Homo sapiens: one gene and its partners. The protein of the gene in region 1 purifies or fractionates together with the protein of each later gene. This does not show direct contact. Each region holds a gene or a part of one and is shown in the gene's direction. Other genes may lie near its edges.

Region 1 (7,024 bases):
TGATATTGGCATAAAAATGGTTTAGTTCTTAAGGGGGAACTTAGAGAAAATATAAATACATTCATATTTGTTTATATTTATTGGTTACAGTAGTTACCTTGCTTTTGAGACCTGCCACTTCCACCTTCAACATCCCTTTGTCCGCCTTCTCTGAGTTGGATTTCAGTTTTGAGTTGTATATGTGAAATTTTGGTTTTAAAATACAAAAGAACATTATTAAAATTATGAATATTTTCTTTACAGTTATAAATGAGAGTTGTTTCCTTTTTAGATTCATAAGCATACATTCTTATGATATTTCACATAACAAGTTGATTTTCAGAGACTCATTTTCCTCGTCTTCAGTTTAATGGGAATGATAACAGATTGTTAAGGATAAAGTGAGATTCTAAATATAGGACTTAAATCAGTCTAAGAAAAGGATATAAAAGCATAAAGTTGGAAAAGAACTTAGATGTTTCAGTTTATGAGTTAAGTAAATTATGCAAGACTAATAACTTCAGAGTTATCTGGAGTTTGTATTAATGTGTAAAAATGTTTTTGTTAGTTGGAAAAATCAACATAAAGTGTATGTAATTACAATGTAAAGAAAACAACTATCGAAAGGGATAATTATTAGAATCATATAATTATATATTATATATAGATAGTATATATACAGAGAATATAACTAGATAGAATATATATGAATATATATATGAATTTCACAAAAATGTAACAATGGGTTTGGTTTTTTTTTCTGAGGAATCTTGGTAATAGATCATGGATTTCAGTTTAATCTATCTGACTGCTTGTTTTATGCTGATTGATTTAATCTGTACTCACCCCTTGAGTTTTGCAATTCAAGTAAAAGTCGATGAAGCGGCTCAGGCCCTGCTTTAGAAAAATAGTTGTGTACTTAAATAGTGTAAAACCCTAATGTATTTCTTTTGAATTGGAAAATAACTTATTCTCTCTTTCTGTCTTTTTCTTTTAAACAGCAATTCTGTGGTGTTCTTGGTCACACATTTATGGAGTTTCTGAAGGGCAGTGGAGATTACTGCCAGGCACAGCACGACCTCTATGCAGACAAGTGAACTGTAGAAACTGATTACTGCTCCACCAAGAAGCCCCCATAAGAGTGGTTATCCTGGACACAGAAGTGTTGAATTGAAATCCACAGAGCATTTTACAAGAGTTCTGACCTGGATGGGGTAAACCTCAGTGCACTTCTTTTCTGTTGGCCTCAGTATTACTGGATTGAAGAATTGCTGCTTCTTGTTAGGAGGTTCATTTCACTTATCATTACTTACAACTTCATACTCAAAGCACTGAGAATTTCAAGTGGAGTATATTGAAGTAGACTTCAGTTTCTTTGCATCATTTCTGTATTCAATTTTTTTAATTATTTCATAACCCTATTGAGTGTTTTTTAACTAAATTAACATGGCTCGAATGAACCGCCCAGCTCCTGTGGAAGTCACATACAAGAACATGAGATTTCTTATTACACACAATCCAACCAATGCGACCTTAAACAAATTTATAGAGGTAAGATTTGATATGTTTTAGTAGCTTAAATTGATTGCAATATAATAGTGGGACTTATAGCTAACAAAATAAAAACTACTTTGGAAAAAATGAGATGATATACCTACAATTCCAGTTCCCAGAAATAAATGTCAATGTCTTCTATAGGTTAGAGGTATATTTGTACATTTTGAGAAGGGCATGTGCTTGAGTTAATAGTTATTGTACCTGAGTTTGCTTGAATTGGTATGTGGACAGTAAAACAGTATAGCTCTTACTTATCTTGTAAGAAATTTACATGGGAAAGGTTGCCATTTATGGATTTTTTATATATCTGCTTAACCTAATGACTAATGCCATAAACCAGTTGGTTTTTCTTGAACCCCATCTGATGCTTAGAATCCAATTTTCAACTACAAATTCTGTTCCTTCCTAATGGTAGCTATGTAGCCAAAACTCTACCTGCCTCTTTTTACTAGGAGAAAGGAATTGAATGCTGAATAATATATCGGGATGTGCACATGTTTTATTTTATAAATACCTACAGTTGTTAAGAAATAGCAAATAGGCCTCTCAGAACATAATGGAAATACTTTTTTTTCCTTTTTTTGAGATGGAGTCTCGTTCTGTCACCCAGGCTGGAGTGCAGTGGCATGATCTCAGCCCACTGCAACCTCTGCCTCCCGGGTTCAAGCAATTCTCCTGCCTCAGCCTCCCAAGTAGCTGAGACTACAGGCGTACGCCACCTTGCCCAGCTAATTTTTGTATTTTTAGATGTAGTTTCACCATATTGGCCAGGCTGGTCTCGAACTCCTGACCTCAGGTGAGCCACCACGCCTGGCTGGGAAATACTTTAATGGTACTTTAATTTTTATTACTATATATTATATATACACTAATATATACTATATAGTGTATATAATAGTATATTATATTAGTAATATGTAATTAGTAATAATGCATTTTGAAGCCTGTAGTTTTAAATGGTATGTGGGCTTTTTTACTGTAGTTAAGACTTCATTCAATGTAAATCAGTAAAGTTTAAGGAGTGAGTATAATTGAGTGAAGTCAGATTACCCGATTAGTTATAAATAATGCCTTTAGTTACATTTACCTTTGTCTGCATTGCTGCTAGCCCCTTTTGGTTAATGTTTCATCCCAATCCGGTATTACCATGACTGTAAACAACTTCAGTGTATGAAGGGGGCACACAATTTAAACAAAAGAAGGAAAACTTTTCCAGTTTATTAAAAATATGTATGGTATTTAATATTCACTTTTCTTTTTATATTCTAGCATTGTCACTTAAAACAAAATTTGCTTTTGTGTTAAACATAAATGGATTCTAGCATTCTTTAAATGATCTTCTGTTAACCAGCATACTTACTGATCAGAGATGATCAGAATATAAAATGTTGAGTTATAGTGATGTGGTTAAACATTAAGATTTTTTTAATGTACGTTTTATCCAGGAACTTAAGAAGTATGGAGTTACCACAATAGTAAGAGTATGTGAAGCAACTTATGACACTACTCTTGTGGAGAAAGAAGGTATCCATGTTCTTGTAAGTATTTAACAGTTCTTATGGGTTTATGGTGCTGTGCTACAAAAGTTTATTCAAATAGTAAATTCAAATAAATATCTATTTAAGTCATAAATAGACCTCAAAAAGCTAAAAACAAATATTATATTATTGTGCAGAATCTTAATTTCTAAATAAAGGTGAAAAGCTAAGCAAGGATTTGAAGTTGTGAAACATTTTTGTAAAGATTGAGCATTTAGTCACATTTGGTAGACAACAGGGTTTAATAAGATTTGATTAAACATTAAAATGAGAATGCTTTTGAAAACATTTCCATGTTAGAAATTTAGAATTATTACTACAGTGTTTATATTAATGATCTAAAATGTTTAAATATTCTTCTGACTTAGGATTGGCCTTTTGATGATGGTGCACCACCATCCAACCAGATTGTTGATGACTGGTTAAGTCTTGTGAAAATTAAGTTTCGTGAAGAACCTGGTTGTTGTATTGCTGTTCATTGCGTTGCAGGCCTTGGGAGGTAAATGAATTTATCAATTTGATTCTAGGTAAAAATCTATTGATAATGAAAATACAGAAACTTGAAAAATTCTTATAATTTTTTAATATAAAGTCAACATTTGTCATAGGTATTACTTAAATAGGAAGGGTGGTAGATAATACTTCTGAGTTGGGGAATGTTTGGAGAAATAAATTTACAAAGATCTGATTTTGAAAAAACTATTTATCAAAATTCTTACCTCACCAGAGCTCCAGTACTTGTTGCCCTAGCATTAATTGAAGGTGGAATGAAATACGAAGATGCAGTACAATTCATAAGACAGTAAGTAATGGATTCTCTTTTCATTTGTACTCTCTTTCATTTCCTTGTTGAGTGTCAGTGAGTTTAATAGTCTAATAGCCCATTTAATCATTATGATTATTTTTTGAGATAGTATTAAAACCAGGAAATCAAGATCTTACATTCTTTTTTGCATTTCATGCAGTTGCTCATATTACTAAGATTCTAATCCAACAAGAGTTTTTGAATTATTGTTTTGCTTTAAATACTTGATTGAATATGTTGGTTATTTTGTATTTTTATTGAGGTATAATTAAGATACATTTAAAGATACAATAAAATGCACAGGTCTCCAAAGGAGACCAGTTGACAATAACAGCCAAATTAACCATCCAATACAACACATAGAATATTTTGAGTGCTGTAGAACATGCCTTTGTGGCTTTTGTAGTCATCTTCCCTGCTACCAGAGGCAACTTCTGACTTCACTATAAATTAGTTTTGTCTTTTCGTGGACTTACGTGTAAATGGATTTGTGAGTCGACTGTTGTAACCAATACTCAAACGAAGATATAAAGAAAATTAACTTTTTATGATTTTTTCCATTTACACTGATGTGCCTGTTCATATTCCTTTCTGCATCAGGTCACAGCCTAATTAATCAAAAGATAAATTGCCACAAGAGAGGTGATGGTTGTCTATAAGACACTAAATATTACTGTAGGGGGCTTTTGCCTTGTTTCATTTTTTTTTTTTTTTCCTCCCAGAAAGCGGCGTGGAGCTTTTAACAGCAAGCAACTTCTGTATTTGGAGAAGTATCGTCCTAAAATGCGGCTGCGTTTCAAAGATTCCAACGGTCATAGAAACAACTGTTGCATTCAATAAAATTGGGGTGCCTAATGCTACTGGAAGTGGAACTTGAGATAGGGCCTAATTTGTTATACATATTAGCCAACATGTTGGCTTAGTAAGTCTAATGAAGCTTCCATAGGAGTATTGAAAGGCAGTTTTACCAGGCCTCAAGCTAGACAGATTTGGCAACCTCTGTATTTGGGTTACAGTCAACCTATTTGGATACTTGGCAAAAGATTCTTGCTGTCAGCATATAAAATGTGCTTGTCATTTGTATCAATTGACCTTTCCCCAAATCATGCAGTATTGAGTTATGACTTGTTAAATCTATTCCCATGCCAGAATCTTATCAATACATAAGAAATTTAGGAAGATTAGGTGCCAAAATACCCAGCACAATACTTGTATATTTTTAGTACCATACAGAAGTAAAATCCCAGGAACTATGAACACTAGACCTTATGTGGTTTATTCCTTCAATCATTTCAAACATTGAAAGTAGGGCCTACATGGTTATTTGCCTGCTCACTTTATGTTTACATCTCCCACATTCATACCAATATACGTCAGGTTTGCTTAACCATTGATTTTTTTTTTTTTTTACCAAGTCTTACAGTGATTATTTTACGTGTTTCCATGTATCTCACTTTGTGCTGTATTAAAAAAACCTCCATTTTGAAAATCTACGTTGTACAGAAGCACATGTCTTTAATGTCTTCAGACAAAAAAGCCTTACATTAATTTAATGTTTGCACTCTGAGGTGCAACTTAACAGGGAGGGCCTGAGAAAAGAATGGGAGGGGGCTATTAATTATTTTTAGCAAAATGTTGCCTTTGTCTTGTGCAAACATGTAGAATATGCTCTTTAATTTAGTAAAATATTTTTTTAAAAGGTAGAGATGCTTTGTTATTGTAATCATAAACTTCCTGAAATTCTTGTAATTTTTTTCCCATACTTATCAGAAGTGTGTTTACCAACTTATTTTTGTTTGAAAGTGTGATTTTTTTTTTCCTTCCCAACCTCTCTTGCAAAAAAAGAAATGGGTTTCTGCTAATGAATTGAGCAGACATCTAATATTTTATATGCCTTTTGAGCTGTGTAACTTAATATTTGGATACTTGACAATTTGTTTTATTATGTAATTGATAAAATGGTGATGTGTATTAATGTTAGTTCAACCATATATTTATACTGTCTGGGGATGTGTGGTTATAGTTCTGTGGGAGAAATAATTTTGTCAGTGTTCACCAGCTTGTAAAAACTTAGTGCGAGAGCTGAAACATCTAAATAAATAATGACATGCATTTATCATCATTGAGATTGGTTTGCTTAAAATTAACTTATTTTGTAGAAGACAAAATGAATTGCACTTCACTTAATGTGTGTCCTCATCTTTTTACAAATAAATGAAGGATTATAAATGATGTCAGCATTTTAGTAAACTTTTAGACAAAATTTGTTAGGGTCATTCATGAAAACTTTAATACTAAAAGCACTTTCCATTATATACTTTTTAAAGGTCTAGATAATTTTGAACCAATTTATTATTGTGTACTGAGGAGAAATAATGTATAGTAGAGGACAGCCTTGGTTTGTAAAGCTCAGTTCCACTAGTTCATGGTTTTGTGCAACTTCTGAGCCTCAGTTTTCTCCTTTGCAAATTAATAATTACATACCTTTATAGATTTTGAAATTAATTTAAATATTAGTATTTGGTACATGAAGGCTTAATGTTAAGTTTCCTTTAATGATCCACAATAATCCCTTTGATCACGTTAATCTAAATCTAGATGTCTTTGTCTAATTTTTTTTGAATAGCAGTTATAAATGTAAAGGACTCAAAGTTTAAGTAAAAAGTGATACTCCACCTTGTGTTTCAAAGAATTTAGTTCCACCTCTTCATACCAGTTTAACACTTAATATATTTCATTGGATTTTAGACAGGGCAAAAGGAAGAACAGGGGCCTCTGGAGGCCCTTGGTTATTTAAATCTTGGATTATTTGTGATAGTAATCACAAATTTTTGGCTAATTTTTAACCTGAGGTTTTGTTTTTTTTTTAAAGGAAATGCAGCCTAGTCTTGAGAACATAATTTTATATAATCAATTACTAAATGTTAAACTATTACCACACAGCCCATAAAACAGCATTTGCGTTTATTGAGAGAGAGGATGTGCCATCATGATTAATGAAAACTATCTTTTGAGTTTGAAAAGAAATTAATTTGCAGTGTTTGGATTGTATATATGGTGCTAAAAATAAATTAATTTACTTTATAAACCTTATCTGTACATTATACGATGTGATGAAATTTGCTTTTTATCCAAATATTTTGTA
Region 2 (7,024 bases), on another chromosome or scaffold:
GCAGCCCCTGAGGCAGGGGTGGTTCTCCTGGTGTGGTGGCCAACATTGCAACCCTGGAATCAGCGGAGTAGGTTCCATCCTGCCCTTGCCTGCCCCCAGGCCCTGAAGGCTGCTCAGCCTCTTGTGGTGCAAAGTCCTCTGCTGTTAGTGATAAGAGTGGGTAAACAGACCTGCGGGGGGAGACTCATCAAGCACTTTGGCCAGTGCCTGGCGTGCATATGCTGTGTGCTTGGCGTTAGCAGGTGGTTCTTACTCCGGGACAGGCTCTGCTGGTAGGTGAGCTGTTTGCCAATCCAGGAGCAAGGGGTGAATCTGGAATTGCAGATTTCTGTTCTTCTAGGCAGGTCACCAGACTTCCTTTTTTTTAGGGAAAAAGTGGAAGACTGTAGCTGTCCTTTTGGTGTTCAAAGCACTCACGTTTCTAGATTCTTTAAGAAAAAGCTCACTCTGGTGTCTGGCTTCAGCTGGCTGCTGCTTTCAACAGTTGAGCAGTCACCAAGCAGAGATTTGGAGCAGCGGAGATGGAAGGGTTGTCCTGTTCAGAACTAAAGGCAACTTCTGTAGTTGGTCATGATGCTCAGGATGAGGCTGGTGAAAGTGGTCTTTCATTTTCCAAACCGCCAGTGTCAGGATCTTCGCTGCCATGGTCTTGTCTTTCAGATGCGATGGATGAGCTTGGTCCAGGGTGGTTGGGGATTCCACTTGGGGAAGAATAAAAAATGTTCATGTTCGTTGGGAAGGAGCGCAGAGGCAGGATGTCCCCTGGCGGGGGGGCTTGTGTGCTGTGTAAGGAACTTGTACTTGATCACCAGGGCCATGAGCATCAAGCAGCAGCATCAGTTATTTTTACAGATCAGTAACAATTGTGGACACCAGCGCAGGGAGACCAGCGGTGTGAGGGATCCAGGTGAGAGGGGATGATAACCTGAACAAGGTTCATGGCAGGCCTGGAGAGGAGCCCCAAGAGGGCAGCAGAGGTGGAATTGGGAAGATTGGTATCTGGCAGCAGGGCTATGCAACAAGGAGGAGCAGCTGAGGATGAGGCCCAGATTTCTGGCTGTGTGGTGGCGGTGCGCCTTCACTAAGGGCCGGGCGTGGGGAGCAGGTTTTGGCCATTGAATTTGTGTCTGTGCAGTGTCCCAAGAGGCAAACTCCTAGCAGGCCGTTGATGTGAAATGCAAGTGGGAGGCAGAATAGGAGTGTCTCTCAAGTCATGGGAGGGAGGCAGAGAGCCTCAGCCTCCTAGGAGCACAGGTGTGTCAGGGGCAAGGGAAGCCCAGGAGAAGCTGGCCAGGAGGAGGCAAGACCAAGGAAGGAGGAGTTCCCGAGATGCGGAATGTCCTGGAAGCTAAGGGAAGAGACCACTTTCCCAGGGAAGGTGAGTGACAGGAGAGGAGGCCAGCAAACAGGATGCCGTTGACCTTTGCAAGAGCAGATTTGGTGCCACGGCAAGGGAGCCATTTGGGGAATGAATGAGGTGTGGAAAGGTACGAGAACCAATGTAGACAGCCCTCCACAGAGTGTGGCTGCAGAGAGAAGTGACTGGCAGAGGATGTGGGACAGGGGAGGAGGCCTTCTGCTGTTTGGTTTTAAGATGGGCAAGTCCAGTAGGTTCAGATTGAAATGCAGGTTGAAATGTAGCTAGGAAGGAAATTAGAGAGGCCAGGGTCCGGGCTGCTCCTGTTCTGGGCTGGGTGGCCTCCAGGCAGGTCACAAGCAGCCCGATGCAGGAGGATTTGGGGTTGAGTGCCTCTGCTTGAAACAGACCTTTCTAAAAGCTGCCTGACAACATGCTGAAAAGGATCCCCTTGGAAGACAGTGGGGGAGGTTTTTGGAACCTGGAGGTTAAATGGGGAGCTCTTTAATCCCCCTTGACTTCCCCGCTCCTGTGGTGAGTGAGGGCCATTCGTGGGCAGACTGGCCATGTCTTTCTGGTGACATCCCGGAGCTTTTTTCTCTGCTTCTCTAGTTCAGTGCAGTCCTTTGGCAAATATCTTTATTTTTTCCGTGTTAAAGTCCTTTTTGTCCTTCCTAACCTTCTTAAGCATTCCTCCACTTAGGAACAAAGGGCATATTGCAGTCTTTGTGGCGTGTGAGGTTTTAAAAATCGATTCCCTTTCCATCTCTCTGCCAAGCTAATGAGCCTCTGAATTTCGTGGAGCTGGAGTCCCTGCCATCTTGGCAGCTTTCATTCCGGGTCTTGTTTCTTTTGCTGTGTCTGCTAGGGAACTTTGTAGTCTGGGGGCAAGGTAACCTCCCCAGCAAGGCGCCCCTCAATCAGTGCCAACTTGAGATGACGTGCTGATTATTTTGTGCAGACGTCACCAGGAAGAGTGAGTGCTTTGGAGCCATAATAAATAACTTGGACAGCTGCTCCTTGACTTACAAATGGAGTTATGTCCTGATAAACCCATTGTAAGTTGAAAATACCTTAAGTCAAAAATGTGTTTGATACATCTAACCTACCAAACCAAATAGTTCAGCCTGGCCCACCTTAAACATGCTCAGAACACTTACTTTAGCCTGCAGTTGGGCAAAGTCATCTAACACAAAACTATTTTAAAATAAAGTGTTGAATATCTCATGTAATTTATTGACTGCTGTACTGAAAGTGAAAACAGAATGGTTATATGTGTTTGAAGTATGGTTTCTACTGAATGCATATTGCTTTTGAACCATCAAATTTGAAAAATTGTAATTTGAACCATTGTTAAGTAAGGGACCTTAATGTACAAAAGAACATTATTATTATTATTATTATTTTTTTTTTTTTTTTGAGATGGAGTGTTGCTCTCTTGCCAGGCTGGAGTGCAGTGGCACAATCTTGGCTCACTGCAACCTCTGCCTCCCGGGTTCAAGTGATTCTTCTGCCTCAGCCTCCTGAGTAGCTGGGACTACAGGCGTGCACCACCACGCCCAGCTAACTTTTTTATGTTTTTAGGAGAGATGGAGTTTCACAATGTTGGCCAGGATAGTTTCGATCTCTTGACCTTATGATCCGCCCGTCTCGGCCTCCCAAAGTGCTGGGATTACAGGTGTGAGCCACTGCGCCTGGCCAAGAACATTATTATTATTATTTTTGAGACAGAGTCTTGCTCTGTCACCTGGGTTGGAGTGCAGTGATGTGATCGTGGCTCACTGTAGCCTCTACCTCCTGGGCTCAAGTGATCCTTCCACTTCAGCCTCCTGAGTAAGCTGGGGCCACAGGTGAACACCACCATCCCCAGCTAATTTTTAATTTTATGTAGAGATTGGGGTCTCCCTATGTTGCCCAGGCTGGTCTCAAACTCCTGGCCTCAAGCGATCCTCCCAGCTCAGCTTCCCAAAGAGATGGGATTACAGGTGTTTCCCACTGTGCCTGGCCGCAGTCTCTGCTTTAAAGGAACCCAGCTCTGGTTTCCTGTCTGCTGGGAGCCAGATGATTGCCATGATGCGGAAAAGAGTCTGACCAGCTCCAACAGCAGTGAGGAGCGTCAGCACACTACTTTTGTCTTTCTCACAGTATTCATTCATTCACTGAGGTGCTTTAGAAAACAGAAGAGAGAAGGTATTCCAACTGTTATTAACATCATAGAAATTGGGCATTATGAAAGGGTACTTTGGCATTCAAATAATTGGGGTACCCTGGAGCCTGCTAACTAAAATTAAACTTGAAGCTTTTCCAGGGCTTTCTGCTTGACGTTGGCAAGACACACTGTGAGCTGCTCGTGGCTCCTTGGAGCTGGCCTGTGGGCAGGCATCAGTGTGAGTGGTTCCACTCTGGTGGCTCAGCAGATGAGAGGTGACCTTGAGTCCCTGCAGCTGCCCTTGCTCTGTCCCTCTGCTGTCATCTTTGGCTGCCATCTAGACCCCTCAGACATTCTTCTTGGGATTCAGTCACACGACCACTGTTCCAGGGGATCTTCCAGGGCCTGCTTTCTTCTGTTCGTGATAGAATCATCCCAGTGTGGCAGGCCATGGAGAATTGTGTGCCTTGTTCTAGAGAAGTTTGAAAGCAAAGGAGTGAGTCCCTTTCTGTAGGAAACCTGCCAAAGGGGCTGGCTTCCTGGGAGAAGGGAGCCGAGATGAGGCCTCTCTGCGCCGAGGTGGCCATTTAGATCCTGGGCTTTGGTGCTGGAATCCAAGACATTAACCAAAACCACATGTCGCACTTGGCCTTCCTGGCCTGGCCTGGCCTGACAGGTTTGTACTCTGGTGGGGCAGCCGTGGCCCATGTAGAGACGGCACCCAGCACAAGCACTGAGGGTTAGAAGGTGTCTAGAAACGCGGTTCAGCAGGGCTGAGTGGCAATCTCCAGGGGCCCTAGCCTTCCTCCCGGAAAGCGGGGAGACGATTCATGTGGCCATTTCCAGCTTTTTGTCCAGGGCAATGCAAGCATCCTGGAGAACTGTGCTTTATTTAATCAAGCCCATGGGATGTAAAGTATGATCCACACAACAACACAAACTTGACTGTTTGATTTCCCAGGAGAGTCTTGAAGCAGATACCCCCTCACAGGCAGGTCCAGGCCAGTTACCCCTCAGCGTTTCCACTAGTGACAAACGAGGGCCTGGTTGAATGAGTTGCTCCCATCCCCCTGTCCTGGACCTGTGCCGCCCAGGCCGGCAGCCCCCTCCACCTGGGGCTGTGCTACCTAAAGGTGGAGTCTGAGTTGAGATGTGCTGTGAGCATAAAACACACCAGATTCAGAGAGTGCAACATAGACAAAATGTCTATGAATATTTTTTGTATTGATTACGTATTGAAATGCTATTTTGACTATATTGGGTTACTTACAATATATTATTAAACTTAATTTTATGTGTTTCTTTTGACTTTTTTAATGCAGCTATTCAGATTTTAAATTACTTAGGTGGCTTGCATTCTGTTTTTTTCAGACGGGTCTAACGTAGTGTGGATGAAAAGCACTTATCTGAGACATAGTAAATTCCTGAAGCCTCCCCAGCATTCCCCAGCACTCTGAGACTTGGGCTTTTTTCCAAGCTTACATTCCCTCACTAAGCAAACAAACCAAATAGGAAGCTAACCTGAGAAAGACATATAGGGTAAGGTGGAAAATCTCAGCCTGGTGCTCCTCCTCCCTGCACAGCTTGGCTCCCGAGTGGCCAGCTACCACTCTTCTCATCCCCTAGTTGACAGCCCCTAATGGGCAGCTTTAAGAATTAGGAAAACCAAAAGATACACAGACACACACACATACACACAGTCTATCTGTCTGTCTGTCTATCTTTCTATCTCTTTCTAATTTCTATCATAAAGAAGGACAAGAAGCCATGCACATTTATGTAGGATGGACAGCATATATATTTACTTTAAGAAGAAAAAGACTTAGGAAATCCTCCCAAGGACAGTCAGGCTGGGTGGCCCCACTCAGCTGCCCCGTGTGGACTGTCGCAGGAGAGCCTGTGTTTCCAGAGTCAGTGCCCTTGTTAGCCTGCATGTGCAGGCTGGCTGATGTGTGAGGCATTTGTGTTCTCCACTGGAGGGAGGCATCCTTGTCTAAACTGCATCCATGTCATGGAGGTGCACGGACCTGGAGCTGGATCCCAGCTCTGCCAGCTCTGCCTGGGGGGCCTTGTGCAGATGGGCATGAGCCCACTGCTTCATTTTCAACCTGTGTGAAAATAAGGCCAGTTCTCATAATCACGCTGGGAGTCTTAAGTAAAAACCTAGAAAAGAGTGTGGCTCTGTGCCTGGCACGTTGTAGGAGCATGAACGTTAGCCGTGTCCTTTTGGTGGGCCTATACCAGGGGAGATGAATCAAACTGGGGGGGGCCCAGCAAGCTGTTCCATGAGTGTCCTCCCCCCACAGGGAAGTCCCACCTGGCCATCGTGCAGAAGGTGAACAACGAGGGTGAAGGCGACCCCTTCTACGAGGTCCTGGGCCTGGTCACCCTGGAGGACGTGATCGAGGAGATCATCAGGTCCGAGATCCTGGACGAGTCTGAAGACTACCGTGAGTCCAGACTCTTGGCAGTTCTGTCTCCGCTGGGCCTGCACACTTCCCCAGGCGTATGTTGCGTCAGAGGCCAGTGGGCCTCTGTGCTGCTGGAACCCAGCAAGATCCACAGCCAGGCCCCCTTCTGAGCCCTGCATGGGTGCTGGCAGAGAGCCCCCTTGCAGGAGGGCTCACGCCTGCACCTCCACACAAGCATGGTTGCCTGTGCCAGCGGTGGCCTTGCAATCCCAGGGCTCACCTGGGGCTCCATTAGCAGCAGTCCTATTAGTTTCCTCCATTACTGAGAGAGCTCTGCCCTTCATGGGCCTTTCCCAGTCTTCTGTCTCCCTAGGTGCTTTTGTTTTTGCAGGTTCTTTTGTACATTACAGAAATGTCCCCTGAAAGAACCCACTGTTTGCCATGAAGAAAGTCTTCCTGGCTGGGCGCAGTGGCTCACGCCTGTAATCCCAGCTCTTTGGGAGGCCCAGGCAGGCAGATCACGAGATCGGGAGTTCGAGACCAGCCTGGCCAATATGGTGAAACTCCATCTCTGCTAAAAATACAAACATTAGCTGGGCGTGGTGGTGCGTGCCTGTAGTCTCACATACTCAGGAGGCTGAGGCAGAAGAATCGCTTGAACCTAGGAGGCAGAGGTTGCAGTGAGTTGAGATCACGCCACTGCGCTCCAGCCTGAGAGACTGGAGGGGGTGGAAATAAGTCTTCCCAAAGCAGCTGATCCCGTGCCCTTGATTGCATGGTAAAAGTGTCCGCCTGTTAGCATGGTGGCTGAGGTCTGCAGGGCTGTACAGAGTCTGTGCGTCATGGCCGGGCCGCCTGCCCTGCATGCTTCCAGAAGTATCGCTTTAATCATGCGTCGATTTTCAAACATAGCATCTCTAGTTCCGTTCTTGAGACTGCCATAGGCATGGGGTCTCCAGGTTAATTGCTGCCCATTTGCATTGGTAATCCTTGAATACATGCTTTATAGTGAGAAGTTTTTCAGTGGCCAGAGAGGCTGTTATTATTTTTTAATTTTTTTTTTTTATTTTGAGACGGTCTTGCTCTGTCATCCAGGCTGGAGTACAG
Region 3 (7,024 bases), on another chromosome or scaffold:
CTTTGGGAGTGCAGACCCAGGAATCAGGTTTTCCCAGGTACCCGAGCCTGGGACAGAAAAGCAGTGAGGATCTGTGCCCCACCCCCACCCTAAGCCTTGGGACCTGAAGACTTCTCCTATTGCTTAGTTGGGAACCTGATTAGGACCCTCCAGGGCAACTTCCTCCTCACTGCCTCTGTGGTGTTTGGGACTATGGTTTGTGACACACCCAGTAGCACCTTCCCATCAGTTCATTTGGAATCTGGATCCAACCAGTATGGATTGGTCTGACCAGTCTCCCAGTCTTGATCAGCAGGGCTGAGCTCTCTTGGGTTGGAGCCTCCTGGGTCTTGAGAGGGCTGTCTTTGGGCTCTGTCTTGTCAAGTGCCCTTTCATTAAGTTGGGAAAACAGAGCTAGCATCTCTTAGGCCGTAGCAGAGCTCTGCTGAGCCAGAGTCCCCAGGTTCAGTTTACTCCGGGAAACTCTGCTTAACAGAGGCCAGTAGCCTGAGGCCAAGCCCTGGAGCAGTGCTGGTAAACCCAGGGAACTGCACACAGGCTGCCCAGCACAGCAGGCCGCCCTGGAGATGGTGATAGTCCCCCCTCTCTACCCACCCCCGACAAATGAACAGGCCCTGCGGCTTTATGCCATCACTTACTTCCCCATTCTCAGAGGTCTTGGAAAACCAGTTTTAACTCATTGCACACCGGGTTCCCTGCAGCGTGGCCTCTTCCAGACCTTCCAATCTGGCGTCCACCTTCTTAGTCTGAGATTACCCAGGACACAGCACACACCTAGTGTACATCTGCAATTTAAGAGTTTCTTGGCCAGGCGCGGTGGCTCATGCCTGTAATCCCAGCACTTTGGGAGGGCGAGGCGGACAGATCACGAGGTCAGGAGATTGAGACCATCCTGGCTAACATGGTGAAACCCCGTCTCTACTAAAAATACAAAAAATTATCCAGCCGTGGTGGCACATGCCTGTAGCCCCAGCTAGTCAGGAGGCTGAGGCAGGAGAATCGCTTGAACCCGGGAGGCAGAGGTTGCAGTGAGCCCAGATCGCACCACTGCACTCCAGCTTGGGCGACTGAGCAAGACTCTGTTTCAAAAAAAAAAGAGTTTAGGAGTCTGGTGTTGGGAATGGTTTTTTTTTTTTTTTTTTTTTTTTTTTTTTTTTTTTTTTTTTGCTAAGAGAAACAAGTGAGCAAAGTTAGAACAGCTGGCATTGTTTTATTTGTTTGTTTGTTGTTGTTTTTTTTTTTTGAGACGGAGTTTTGCTCTTGTTGTCCAGGCTGGAGTGTAATGGCACAATCTCGGCTCGCTGCAACCTCTACCTCCCGGGTTAAAGCGATTCTTCTGCCTCAGCCTCCTGAGTAGCTGGGGTTACGGGCATGTGCCACCACCCCTGGCTAATTTTGTTTATTTAGTAGAGACGGGGTTTCGCCATGTTGGTCAGGCTGGTCTTGAACTCCCGACCTCAGGTGATCCACCCGCCTTGGCCTCCCAAAGTGCTGGGATTACCGGTGTGAGCCACCCTGCCCAGCCTTTCAGCTGGCATTGTTAACAGCACCAGAGTCAGAGCTGGGGCAACTGTCTAGCCCAGCATCTCTCTCTGAGGGTCTGTCCTGGACCCTCCTCCACCCCAGGTTGGGTGAGGGTCCTGAGCCTAGCTTTGCCAGAGTCCTTCTGCCCCACAAGTAATCCTCTTTTAGGGCCTTTGTATTCTTTCTTTCCCCTTTCCAGCATTATAAGCTCCTTGAGGGTAGAGGCCATGCCTTCTTAGTGTTTTCACCACTCAGTGCTTGGTAAAGAGACGGGTCTCCAGTAAGTGTTGGACAAATGAATGAACAATGGATGACTCTCTGGCAAGCCCCACTGGCCTTTTTGCTGTTCTTTTTTTCTTTCTTTCTTTCTTTCTTTTTTTTTTTTTTGAGACGGAGTTTCGCTCTCATTGCCCCGGCTGGAGTGCAATGGCACCATCTCGGCTCACTGCAACCTCCACCTCCGATTCTCCTGTCTCAGCCTCCCGAGTAGCTGGGATTACAGGCGCCCGCCACCACGCCCGGCTATTTTTTGTATTTTTAGTAGAGATGGGGTTTCACCATGTTGGCCAGGCTGGTTGCGAACTCCTGACCTCAGGTGATCCACCCACCTCAGCCTCCCAAAGTGCTGGGATTACAGGTGTGAGCCACCACACCTGGCCTTTTTTTTTTTCTTTTCTTTTTTTTTTTTTTGAGACAGAGTTTCACTCTGGCATGATCTCGGCTCACTGCAACCTCCACCTCCCAGGTTCAAGCTATTCTTGTGCCTCAGCCTCCCAAGTAACAGGGATTACAGGTGCATGCTACCACATCTGGCTGATTTTTGTATTTTTAGTAGAGATGGGGTTTCACCATGTTAGCTAGGCTAGTCTTGAACTCCTGACCTCAAGCGATCTGCCCACCTCGGCCTCCCAAAGTGCTGGGATTACAGGTGTGAGCCACCGTGCCTGGCCCTTTTTGCTGTTCTTAAACACACCAGGATGCTCCCACCATGGGGCCTTTGCCCTGGTTGTTTCCTTGGGCTGGAATATTCTTCTCCAGAAGTCAGCATGGCTCACTGTCTTCCCAGGTCACCTCTCAGTGGGGCCTTCTTGCCACCTTGTTTAAAACTGCACCCACCATCCCACCCCAACTTCCTAATCTCCCCTGCCCTGTGCCGATTTCTTCTCTTCTCGTAGCACACATTGCTCTCTAGCATCTATGTAATTTGCTGATTTACTGTGTTGTCTACTGTCTGTCTCCTCCCACTGGCATATAAGTTTCAAAGGGCAGGTCTCTTTGTTTTGCTCATCAATGTATCTCTAGCCCCTAGAATGGCTCTTGGCACATAGTAAGGCCTCCATCCATGGCACTGAGTGAGTAAGTGAGTGAATGAATACCTGTCTGTTTTGGCAGAGGATCATTCCCATTTTAATAGTGTTAGAATTCTGAGGAGCTGATGAGTGCAAAGAAAAATGGGTGTTGTGCACTTACCGGGTTCAGAGTTCCAGCCACACAGGACAGACAGGAGGAGTGCCTGGGATGACATGTCAGGGACTGAGAAGTAGAGTTTGGGGCCTTGAGTGTGATGCATGGTTCCTCTCCATGTGCCTCAGTTTCCCCACCAGTAAGTGGTCTTTGGCCACTGGGGGTTTACACAGCTTCCCTCATTAGATGAGTCATGAATGTGCTCCTACACACTTAGAGACGGGCTAGGGGCATCGATGCAGAGGTAGGGGCCGAGTGTCCCTAGGAGTAAGGCAGGGGTACAGCCTTGCAGCACTTCTGTCTCCCAGCTCACGGCAGTTAGTGCCAGATATCTGTGGAACCCCATGCTGCGTGCAAGACGTGATGCTAGGTGATGCAGGACCACAGGAGTAAGATCATCGAGTTGGTGAGACAAGCCCTCAGGCCTGAGAGTCTCCTGTGATTTGAACCTTGGCCCTTCCGCTTAAACCTCGCCTGGAACTGTTTGCAGTACTGGGTGTTGTGGGTGGGTTTGTCCACCTTGGAATCTCAGAACAAAGCCACCTCCAGCTCCTCCTGCCCCAGTTTGTGTTTTGCCTTCACCACTCTCCCAGACCCTGAAGCTAAGTAATGAAGGAAGAGGGCAGAGCTCTGCACCCCCCTTGCAGCCCACCTTCCAGCTTCTAGCTGTGCCTCACCCTCTGGGACACTCCTTCCCTCCCAGGTACTTAGCTCATCTTTAAACACCTTATCTTTCCCCACCCACCTTATAACCACCTAGACCCTGTATAGACCTGGGTGTAACTCCAGCCAGCCTGGTCACTGACCTGTGAGGTGGCCTTGGACCTGTTACTCCTCCTCTCAGCAAGGTAGTGCAGTATAAATTGGTGGGGAAAAGCTAGAAATATTTTCATTAAAAAAATCCTCCTGGCTGTGGCTCACGCCTGTAATCCTAGCACTTTGGGAGCTCTTTGGGTGGGTCACTTGAGGCTAGGAGTTCGAGACCAGCCTGGCCAACATGGCAAAACCCCATCTTTACTAAAAAAATGCAAAAATTAGCTGGGTATGATGGCACATGCCTATAATCCCAGCTACTGGGGTGGCTGAGGCAGGAGAATCGCTTGAACGGAGGTTGCAGTGAGCTGAGATTGCACCACTGCACTCCAGCCTGGGCGATAGAGCAAGACTCTGTCTCAAAAAACAAAACAAAACGAAACAACAACAACAACAAAACACCCATATTTTCATCTAGGCTGTGTCAGATTTTCCCACTGACTTAATTTTATTCCCGCAACAACTTTATGAAGTTGAGAAAAAACACTGCATGATTTTTGCATTCACTTTTGGTTCCTCTTATCTGACACACCTTAAGTAACTTATCCTCCACACCCCACCCTCCCATCCGCACCTGCTTATTCATCCATTTGTTCAACCAACAGTGACCGTTTTGAAGCCTCTGTGTCAGACACTGTGCAGGCTGTTGGGAATCAGAGATGAATAAAACTGCCCTGTTCACAGAACTCACAGTCTACCAAGGAGAGAGACACGTGAACAACGCCTAGCTGCACAGAGCTCACAGATAGGGTGCCGTGGGGCTGAGGGAGGGCAGGCCTGTGAGATGCTTCTGAAGTGAGAGTAACTAGACTCGTTGATCCTTGTGGAGATCTGGGAGTCAGGGCCCGGAAGTAGTTGTGAAAGTCTGAGGTTTCTAGCTTGGGATTCAGGTTGATTATGTCATTTAACTGCAATCGGGAAAGGGGGACGAAGAGACAGTTTAGTGAGGGCAGAGGGAGGTAAGTGGTGGTCATAATAATGGTGTGACCCGTTGCTGAGCTCCTTCTCCGTGCCCAGCATTGTTTACACTGGAGCTTCTCACACTCGACTGCCTGGACATTTTGTTGAAATGCAGACTTGAACTCAGTGGGTCTGGGTGTGGCCCGAGAGTCTGCATTTCTGACAGGTTCTCAGATGATGCCCATGCTGCTGGCCCTGGACCACACCAGTGTGCAGTAACATCTAGGCAGGCATGCAGGGGAAAATGCCCACGTGAGGCTGAGGAGCAAGGCCAGGACAACGCTAAAAGGTTTAAGAGTCAGCCAAGAGGCCGGGTGCGGTGGCTTACGCCTGTAATCCCAGCACTTTGGGAGGCCGAGGCGGGCGGATCATGAGGTCAGGAGATCGAGACCATCCTGGCTAACACGGTAAAACCCTGTCTCTACTAAAAATACAAAAAATTAGCTGGGTGTGGTGGTGGGCGCCTGTAGTCCCAGCTACTCGGGAGGCTGAGGCAGGAGAATGGTGTGAACCCGGGAGGTGGAGCTTGCAGTGAGCCGAGATCGCGCCACTGCACTCCAGCCTGGGCAACAGAGCGAGACTCCGTCTCAATAAAAAAGGAGTCGGCCAAGAGCAGGCAGAATGGAGAGCTGCTGGGCACAGTGGCTTTGTAATCCCAGCACTTTGGGAGGCTGAGGCAGGTGGATCACCTGAGGTCAGGAGTTCAAGACCAGCCTGACCAACATGGTGAAACCCCGTCTCTACTAAAAATACAAAAATTAGGCGTGGTGGTGGGTGCCTGTAATCCCAGCTACTGCGGAGGCTGAGGCAGGAGAATAGCTTGAATCGGGAGGCGGAGGTTGCAGTGAGCCGAGATCGCGCCATTGCACTCCAGCCTGGGTGACAGAGTGAGACTCTGTCTCAAAAAAAAAAAAAAAAAGAATGTGTGAGAGAGGAAAGGACAGTGCAGGGGGTGTCAGTGTGTAAAAGCCAGGCTGAGGCGACTCCTTGATGGAGACGAAGAGAACCAAGGGGGCACGCTATTCGGGAGCCTCCTTGGAGGGTCAGATGGGGTGAAGACCATGCACAGACTGTGGGATGGGACCTTAGGCTGTGGGGTGCCCAGCGAGAGCAGCCTCGGACAAGTGGTGCCCGAAGGCAGCTTTGCACCGGTTCTCCGTCAGCCCTGCCTGGTAATAGCCTCAATATGGTGATTTGATCTCAAGAAGCTGCCTGGGGGCAGGTGTATCTGAGAGTGACAGGAGCTGGTTAATACTCCGGGTGCAGGCAGAGGTCCCAGCAGGGACAGCTGACAGAGCTGTGGCCAGGCTCCTTCTCACTTTCCCTTTAGTGCAGTGCTGTGGGAAGGGAACATGAGCACGTGGAGGGGCCTGGTGCGTGCCAGCCAGTGGGCAGCTGCACCTCCTTCCTGGCTGGCCCCATGCAGCCTATGGGCGGGTTCCCAAAGAGGAGCCAGCACTGAGAGGACACTCACGTGTCTTCACTTGACAGTTCTCTTCTCAGAGCTCTTGTTTGTGCAATGGAAGGCAATGCTGTGCATCGAGGCCCTGATAGGTTCTTAGTTATTCTGGTGTTTACTTTTCAAAGGTCTCGTATTTTTAACTAGGAAATCCCGCTCCAGTGTTTTTCTGCTCACCTCTGGTCAGGACGGGAAGCACCGAGCAGATGTTTAACCTTGAAAATGGGTGAATACACAGGAGCACAACATCAGGGAATGGCCCTACAGGATCAGCAGGGGGCCCTTGGGAAGGGGAGGCCTGTCTCGTAAGTAAAAGTCTGGGAAGACATTTCAGCGGAATTTGCTAGGGCGGGTAGACATGGCGTTTTCCACTCTGGTACGTGTTGCCCTGGGAGAGCTTGGACAAGACCCGAAGGCTGAGAGGTGAGCCTCACCGTCCTTCGCAGCAGCTTTGGGGGTGTGGCTCAGGCCTCCCGGGCTGCTTCCCCTCCTTTTCTAGACGGACTTGGCGGTGCGGATCCCTGGGTGCCTTCTCTCTGCACCCCTCCCACATGAACCTGGTTGACTGAACAGCAAGGACATCTTTGAGGGGAAGGAAGCCTGGCCCCTCTGAAGGAGTCGCTACTACAGGCCTCCAGTCTCCTTGAGGGCAGGGGCCAGCATGGTTGTCCTGCACTGAGCGCTGGCTCCTGAAAGGCCGCGCAGCCATGGAGAGTGTGTATGGAAAGGCAGCCTGGGCCAGGCCTCTGTCGCTGCCTTGGTGACTGATTTTCGCAGAGCCTCCTGGTTCCTTCTCCCCAGCCC
Region 4 (7,733 bases), on another chromosome or scaffold:
CCACCCATCACCTAGACTTAACAGGTGGTAATTGCAATACCATAATTCACTTGACAAAGTTAATAATGATTTCTTTGTGTCATGTAATAGTCTATATTTCATCTTCCCTGGTTGTAGCTGGTTTGTGTATGGAATTGTTTGACAGATAAAGGTCAAGCCTCTCAGAGAAGGGGCAGCTTTTTCTAATTCTTCCCATGGGGTCATATGGGGCTGGTCCTAGATGACCTCATGGGTCATCCCCCACTTCTATGTCTCCCCCATCTGTAGCTACTTCCATATTTGCACTAAAGGAGATTCAGCTACAAAAGGAGGCCAGCCTTCGGTCTTCGTCGATGCCTGACTCAGGTAGGTATAGCCCCTTGTCTTCCTCCCTGCCCCACCCACCTACCTGCTTACCCACCAACAGCCATCTGCTCTGCTTTCCCCCACAGGCAGGCCAGCTTTCCGCGTGGTGGACACCGAGTTCTAAGCCACAGACCGAGGCCCCAGCAGGCAGCGGCTGGAGGGATGCCACACCCCTCACAGGGCAGCCCCCAACTACATCTTCCCTGCTTACTCTCTGCCTACCTGCCTGAGCCATGTTCACCTGCCCACTTGTCCCCTGCTGCCTGCCCAAACACCCCACCATTGGCCTGTCAACCCACCCATTGGCCTGTCTGCTGGGTGCTAACAAAGCTCTCATCACTCCTTCACTTGGTCTGTCTGTCTCTGTCTTGGTAGTTGCCGGTGGACAGCATGGCCGTGCCAGCCTCCCACACTGAGGCCAGGTCTACCCCCCATCATACCAGCCCCCAGGACCACTACCCCACGGCCAGCCAGGGGTCCAGAGCTAGCCCAGGCTGGGGATCTCGACTCAGACAAGATGGTGACAATGCCTTGAGTCTGAGGCATCCTCTGCCTGCTTTCCTGCCTGCCCCACCTGCCTCATATTGTGTGGGCCTTTTTTTGTTTGTTTCATTCATTGTTTTTTTTTTTTTAATTATTTTAAATGAGATTTTTGTTTTTTTTAAATGCAATATCTCTGTATACAGACTGGCTGGGCCCCACCCCCTGCGTGTGGCCCTCCCACAGTATTTTGTGCAATGAAGCCCTGCTCCCAGCCTTTCAGAGACAGGGACACAGCCCCTATTTGGAACCCTGATCATCACCAGACCCTGGGATTGGCTATGGGAAAGCATGCCACAGCCACTCGCCTTCCTACCCCCGCCCGCCATCCCCAGTTGCAGGGGGATCTGGGGACTACCAGAGACTCTGGGAAATGGACAAGGTGGGGGGCCCCACTCTTTCTCTCCTGCAGTCCCGTAGCTGGGGCCTCCTTCCTTCTCAGGGTCTCCCCAGCCCAGTCCCCTTGCTCCCATCCCACTCGGTGCTGTTGGGTAGGGGCCCTGCCAGGAACTGACCAGCTCAGCGAGGAGCCATAATGTGCATATGTGCACAAGCAGGGTTGGGGGAGGGGGGTGTGAGGGGTTGTGCCCAGGTGTTGCCCCCTATCTCCTGGGGAGGGTGAGGCAGGGCAGGGACAGTCTCCAGGGTCAGTCCCTGGATGGGTGGTTACCTCCCCTTCCTCCACCCTAAGCCCTGGGGCCCTGAAATGGGGTGGGAGGGCAGGGGTGGGAGCCCTCCTAGTGGGTTTGGGGGGTTGGGTTCCTGAATGCACCATAATCGCTGTATGAAATATTAAAAAGTCTAAAGTGAAAAGCCTGCTTGCAAATCCCTGTAGGGGTGGAGGGTGGCCGAGCTGGGGTGATTATTGGGACCTTGGAGAATTCATACCTCATCACCACTGTCTAGGAAAACACTGGGAGTGGGCCAGGGACACGTCACGACTATGAAAAAGGCATCTAAGGTATTGCATATGTAACAGTAGAACATGGAGTTGAAGCAGGTAGGGCAGGCTGAATGGTGTTGATGGGTTGAGAAGCAGAAAGGGGAGTTAGATTTGCCCAGGAATATGAGGAAGCCTGATAAGAGGGTGGAGGCAGGGAAGTGGAGAGACGATGTTTGAAAGACACTGGACGGCCCAATAGAACCATGGATGGGAAGATGAGGCAAAGGCCCAGTATGGCCATCTGACTAGGAAACCATGAAGAGGAGGGAATGTTCAGGACGGTAGGGGGTAGATTTTGGACCACTGAGTAGGTAGAGAAATCCTTTAATACATGGATCAAATTAAGCAGTGGGGCCATAGATGGACCTGGAAATTTCAATTATTAGTGTCCAGGAAGTAACAGAAACCATGGGCATGGGTGAGAGAGTTTGCAAGAGGCCAGGGATCAATGACACAACCTGGGGTTTGCCCTCAGATATGAGGATAATTGAAACTTATTTTCTTTGTCCTGTGAGTTCCAGCCCCAGTCCCACCATCTTGGGCAAAGCCAAGGATTGTTTTCTAAGCAGAAGAGGGGGTGAGCAGGGCCAGGCAAATACTGCAAGTAATGGCAACCCTAATTAAGTGGCTGTTTACTAAAGCCCAGTGGTGGGGGCCCATGAACTTCTAATCACTCTACTGTGTGTGTTTGTTTTTTGAGACAGAGTCTCTGTCGCCCAGGCTGGAATGTGGCGGCACAATCTTGGCTCACTGCAACCTTTGCCTCCTGGGTTCAAGCGATTTTCCTGCCTCAGCCTCCTGAGTAGCTGGGATTACAGGCGTGCACAACCACGCCCACCTAATTTTTTATTTTTAGTAAAGATGGGGTTTCACCATATTGACCAGGTTAGTCTCGAACTCCTGACCTCAAGTGATCCACCCACCTCGGCTTCCCAAAGTGCTGTGATTACAGGTGTGAGCCACCAAGCCCAGCCTCTACCGTGTCTTTCTAAGCACTTTAGTGATGTTTCAGCTTGCAGCCTCATGGTGCCATGATGACTGCCATGTCCCCAGAGATGGAAAAGCAAGCAGGGAAGACAGAACACCTTCCTTACCTGTCTGTGTTCTTTTAACGGCTGGAACTTCCACAAGCTCCTCAGCAGACTTCCTGTGCCATTTCTTGGCTAGAATCAGATGACATGGCCACTTCTGGCAGCAAGGGAGGATGGGAAAAGGAGGGCCTTGCAAAGGGGGACAGGATTGCCAGGCTGGATTTAAAAGGTCTAGAACTCACCCAACTGCTCTGGGAAGTGGTAGGGTCACTGGTGTGGGCAGAGGTTGGCCTCTGGAAGGTGGAAAAAAAAAAACGGTCTAGGGCTGGGAAAGGAGGTCTCTTGGATTTACCTGGCTGCCCAGATAAATGGGGAGGGGGAGTCTGCAGAGGGGCAATGGGGAGAATCAATTCAGAGAATCTGACAAGATTCAACTGGGCTTGAAGAGCAGCTATCTGCCATGTGTCTGACTCAACTCAAATGCCACTTTCTTTGGGGACCCTTAAGTGAAAGGCCTGCTCCCTTTCCTCACCCAGAGCTTACACAACTGAGTTTGTGACCCCTCATCTATGCCAGGTCTGGGCTGGGGGCTGGAATCACAGTAATAAAGACACAATCCCTGCCCCGCAGAGATTAACTGAAAATAGGTAAATTATGAAATTGTGAGGGGGAAGGGAGGTTCGAAATTAAAGTCATCATCAACGGGGCTGGCAGCCCCAGCAGAGGAAAGAATAGCATAGCCTAGAGCAGTGGTTCTCAACCAGAGACATTTTTCCCCCAAAGGACATTTGGTAATGTCTGGAGATACTTGGTTGTCCTGAGGGGTACTACTTGGTATCTAGTAGGTAGAGGCCAGGGATGCTGCTACATATCCTGCAATGCCCACAACAAAGAAATGACAGTGCTGAGGTTGAGAGACCCTGGCCTAGTCCAAGGGTTCTCAAACTTTGGGTCTCGGGATTCCTTTATGTTCTTAAAAGTTTAAGATATTCAAAAGAGTTTTTGCTTATGTCATATAGCCTCTGGATTCAGAAGCCTCTGGATAATCACACTGTACACCCCTGAGAGAATGAGAGTGAAAAAGTATTGTGAAAATAGTTTTCATTTTGTGAAACCCCAAGAGGATTTTTGGACCGGTAGACAGGCTGGGACCACTGGGACCACACGGTTGGAGAATGTTTGGCCTGGTGTTTAAGGTCACAGCTCTGAAACCAGATTTCTCAAGTCTAAACTGCAGCTCCACCACTAATTAGCTGAGGGACGTTTCTGGTACTCAGCGTCCCCATTGTTACCCATGGGTGACAAGGACAGTACCTGCTGCCTGAGGCTACTATTTTAGTCCAATAAAGCACTTAAACTGGGCGGACAGCTAGTTTAGTTATGATTGCTATGACTCCAACAAACATAGGGCCTGGGGCTAACTTGTCTTCAACACCTTGTCTAGTGAATAAATCTAGTTCAGGAAGAGAAACAACAGCCCGCAGGCCTCGGTGGGTCTCTGGAGGTGGAAACCTCTTTTGCATTGGGTTTTGATGGTACAATGAAGGGCATTCTGATCAGGCTAACAAAAACACTGCTCCCAGGGTAGGAGTCCTAGCCCACCTCGGGAACCTCAGCCTCCACTTTCCATGCCACCTGTGCCCTAAGTCTACAGGGCGTTAGGACCCCACAAGGCACTTTTGTCTTTCTTGGTTCCCACTGAAGATTTTACCCCACCTAGCCCTTCGACGCGTCTGTGCACGGGGCCATTTCCAATATGGCAGTAGCCCCGCGACTGTTTGGGGGGCTCTGCTTCCGTTTCCGGGACCAGAATCCGGAAGTGGCTGTTGAGGGGCGTCTTCCAATCTCGCACAGCTGCGTTGGCTGTAGAAGAGAACGGACGGCGATGGCGACGGTCGCAGCAAATCCAGCTGCTGCTGCGGCGGCTGTGGCGGCGGCAGCGGCGGTGACTGAGGATAGAGAGCCACAGCACGAGGAGCTGCCAGGCCTGGACAGCCAGTGGCGCCAGATAGAAAACGGCGAGAGTGGGCGAGAACGTCCACTGCGGGCCGGCGAAAGCTGGTGAGGCTGGGCTGCGGTGGAGCCTCGGCAGAGGGAACGGTGGGGGCATTGACAACCGCTGGGGATTCGGCGGCCGAGGGCCGCGGGAAAGCTGCTGCGGGGTGCGGGGGCGGGGGAGTGGCCGGCGGGACAGCGGGCTAAAGGGGCGGGGAAGTGCCTTTGAATGAATCGCAACGTCTGGAAAAGGGGCGGGGCCTGTGTGGTGCAGTCTGACGCCTGAGAACAAAATGGGGTTTGTTGTGATGAGACCAGTTTCGGTCCTGGAGGTGGGGCCGGGCCTGCGTAGTGAAACTGCGTAGGAACCTGGGAAGAAGGTGGGTTCTGCTACATAAGGCGGGGGCGCGGCCTGCGCTGCGTAATGCAACTTTTGGGGGCGAGGAGCGGTTTCCGATTGCTCCGGGGCGGCTGGGAACGAGGCGAGCTTTGTGACGTCAGCAGAAGAGCGGGATGGAGCCGAACGGTCCGAGGGAGGGAGCGGGGACCTCCGTGGGGGAGGGGGGAGGAGCCTGGAGCCTGGGAACGAGGTTAGGTTGGTGACGTGAGCTGAGGGGCGTGCTCTGAGGCCGAGGGACGACAGTGGAGGGGAGGTGGTGCCTATGAGGCAGAAAATGGCGCCTGCGAATAAGCAAAGTTTATGACGCGCCGTGGTTTTTGATTCTGGCGGAAGCCTTCCCGAGTCGAGAGAACGTGCAGGTGATTAGCACCGGAGGGGCCTTCCATGTTTAATTGGTTTTCTGTGTTGGTACTGTTTTGTTTTTAGAATCAAGAAAAAGTCGTTTTTTTAAAAAATAGAATTTTGATAAATCGGCTTGTTTTACTGATTTCTTGCTAAACAGTCCTTCTTGAAATTTACTGCTTCTGAGTTCATTTTATTTCTCGCCGAGTTGCATCTCGTTTTTTAATTGTGAAATACGTAAGACTTAAAAAGATTATATAAAACATTTACGCAGCCCAGATTGACGGACATCCTGTTAAAATAAACGGCCTACACTCTTCAAAAATGTCAGGATCATGAAAGACAAAGGCTGAAGAACTGTTCCAAATTGAAGGAATTAATGCAATTTAACGAGTCATGATAACTAAATGCAACATGTGATCCTCGATTGGATCCTGGAACAGAAAAAAAAATTATTTTAAAAATCAATTTTTTATCATAAGATTATTTTTGTCTCTTTTACTGTAAAAGGCAATGGAAACGTCGGTGAAATTTTATTAAAGTGGGTAGATACTAGTACTACTAATAATTGTGATCATTGTGGCTGTGAAAAATAATATCCTTGTTTATAGGAAATACTGAAAAATTTAGGGATAAGAACGCATCGTGTAAGCAGTTTATTCTCAAATGCCTGAAAAATTAGCATATATAAATTTATATATGGCGAGGGGAAATAAAATTGGGGAGATGTTGGTCAAAGGATACAACATTTCAGTTAGACAAGAAAAATAAGTTCAGATCTATTGTACAACTATAGTTAATAAATTCATTGTATACTTGAAAATTACTGAGAGAAGATTTTACATGTTCTACCACCCCCCAAAAAATAAGTATGTGACGTAATGGATGTGTTAATTGCCTTGACTTAGTCATTCCACAATGTATACATAAGTCAAAACTTCATGCTGTACACTCTAAATATATGCAATTTTTGTCCATTTTAAAATAAATAAAAATACCAAAAAATGCATGTAAAGAAACAACGATTGAGCAAATGAGTAAAATATTAGATTTGGAGAATCTGGATGAAGGACATATGGGGATTCTCTGTATTATTTTTGCCATTTTTCTCAATCTATTTCAAAGTTTAAAAATTAAATAATAAATAAAAACGTGTGAATTCACCATCCATGTTAAGATTCAGAACACTGTCTTAAGAAATCCTTCTGTGCCCCTCCCAGATGGAAATTCCCCTCCTTGCTCCATGGGAAACTGTTATCCTGAATTTTGAGTTAACAGTCTCTTCCTTTTCTTTAATGTTTTACCACAGCTGTATGCATCCCTAAGCGGTATGTATTGTCTAAGCTTTCACTTTATACATATATGGAATACATATATATAAAATTCTACTGGATGCATACTGTGAGCCCTTATCTTCGCATCGGGTAATACATGGTATCCACATGGCATCATTGGTGATGTTAACCTTGATCACTTGGTTATGGTAGTGTTGGCCAGCTTTCTCAACTGTAAAGGTACCATTTTCCTCTTTACATATGCAGTAATTATTTTTAAAACATGTATCATGTCCAGCCATTCCTCAAAATACTCTTAACAGCTTCCCATCTCTTGCAGCGTAGATGCTAAAATCCTTACAATGAATTGCAAGCCTTTATGAAGCTGGTCTCCTGCTTGCATTCTGATGTCTTCCCATATCTCTCCTCTGATTACGCACTCCCTCCCTGTCTCCATCCAGGCCGGCCATATTGGACTCTTGCTGTTCCTCAAACACATCTAACCTTAGGGCTTTTTCGAGTGAGGTTTACTCACTACAGAGTTCTTTAATAACCACACCAGTGAAATGTGTATCTCTGTTACTGGGGAGATGAGTTGAGATTTTCCAAATCGGGAATACAAACCCAAGCCGTGTTTTTCTGCCATTACGTCACACTTTTCCAGCAAGAAAAAGCCTCATTTCATCCTGAGAATAAACAAAATAACCACAGTGTTTTGTAACTCATTTGAAGATGTTCAAAAGGGCCTTGAGGCTTTGATCCTTGCCTCTTCCTACCTTTGTAGCCTTGTGATTGTGTCACTGGTAGGACATGACATCCTGTCATCCTTGATAATACGCTTTAAAATTACCCCACCAGTACTG

Evidence for each region.
Region 2: the proteins of PTP4A1 (region 1) and CNNM3 purify together in Homo sapiens (affinity purification with mass spectrometry; 6 studies listed by BioGRID and IntAct, with this or other methods). This does not show direct contact.
Region 3: the proteins of PTP4A1 (region 1) and CNNM4 purify together in Homo sapiens (affinity purification with mass spectrometry; 6 studies listed by BioGRID and IntAct, with this or other methods). This does not show direct contact.
Region 4: the proteins of PTP4A1 (region 1) and USP11 purify together in Homo sapiens (affinity purification with mass spectrometry, with the first as the bait; 2 studies listed by BioGRID). This does not show direct contact.

The regions. Positions count from the first base shown.
Region 1 is NC_000006.12:63,575,456-63,582,479, forward strand, and holds part of PTP4A1 (protein tyrosine phosphatase type IVA 1), read left to right. Parts: intron 1-980; coding exon of another isoform or gene 981-1,076; 5' UTR 1,077-1,425; coding exon 1,426-1,530; exon of another isoform or gene 1,531-2,981; coding exon 2,982-3,074; exon of another isoform or gene 3,075-3,442; coding exon 3,443-3,573; exon of another isoform or gene 3,574-3,801; coding exon 3,802-3,876; exon of another isoform or gene 3,877-4,558; coding exon of another isoform or gene 4,559-4,601; coding exon 4,602-4,719; coding exon of another isoform or gene 4,720-4,756; 3' UTR 4,757-7,024. Other genes in the region: uncharacterized LOC128125822, read left to right, coding at 981-1,076. UniProt on the Homo sapiens protein: Protein tyrosine phosphatase which stimulates progression from G1 into S phase during mitosis. May play a role in the development and maintenance of differentiating epithelial tissues.
Region 2 is NC_000002.12:96,819,246-96,826,269, forward strand, and holds part of CNNM3 (metal transporter CNNM3 isoform 1 precursor), read left to right. Parts: intron 1-5,812; coding exon 5,813-5,956; intron 5,957-7,024. UniProt on the Homo sapiens protein: Probable metal transporter.
Region 3 is NC_000002.12:96,763,901-96,770,924, forward strand, and holds part of CNNM4 (metal transporter CNNM4 precursor), read left to right. Parts: intron 1-7,024. UniProt on the Homo sapiens protein: Probable metal transporter. The interaction with the metal ion chaperone COX11 suggests that it may play a role in sensory neuron functions. May play a role in biomineralization and retinal function.
Region 4 is NC_000023.11:47,228,300-47,236,032, forward strand, and holds the start of USP11 (ubiquitin carboxyl-terminal hydrolase 11), read left to right. Parts: upstream 1-4,709; 5' UTR 4,710-4,744; coding exon 4,745-4,920; intron 4,921-7,733. Other genes in the region: CDK16 (cyclin-dependent kinase 16), read left to right, coding at 268-345, 721-761.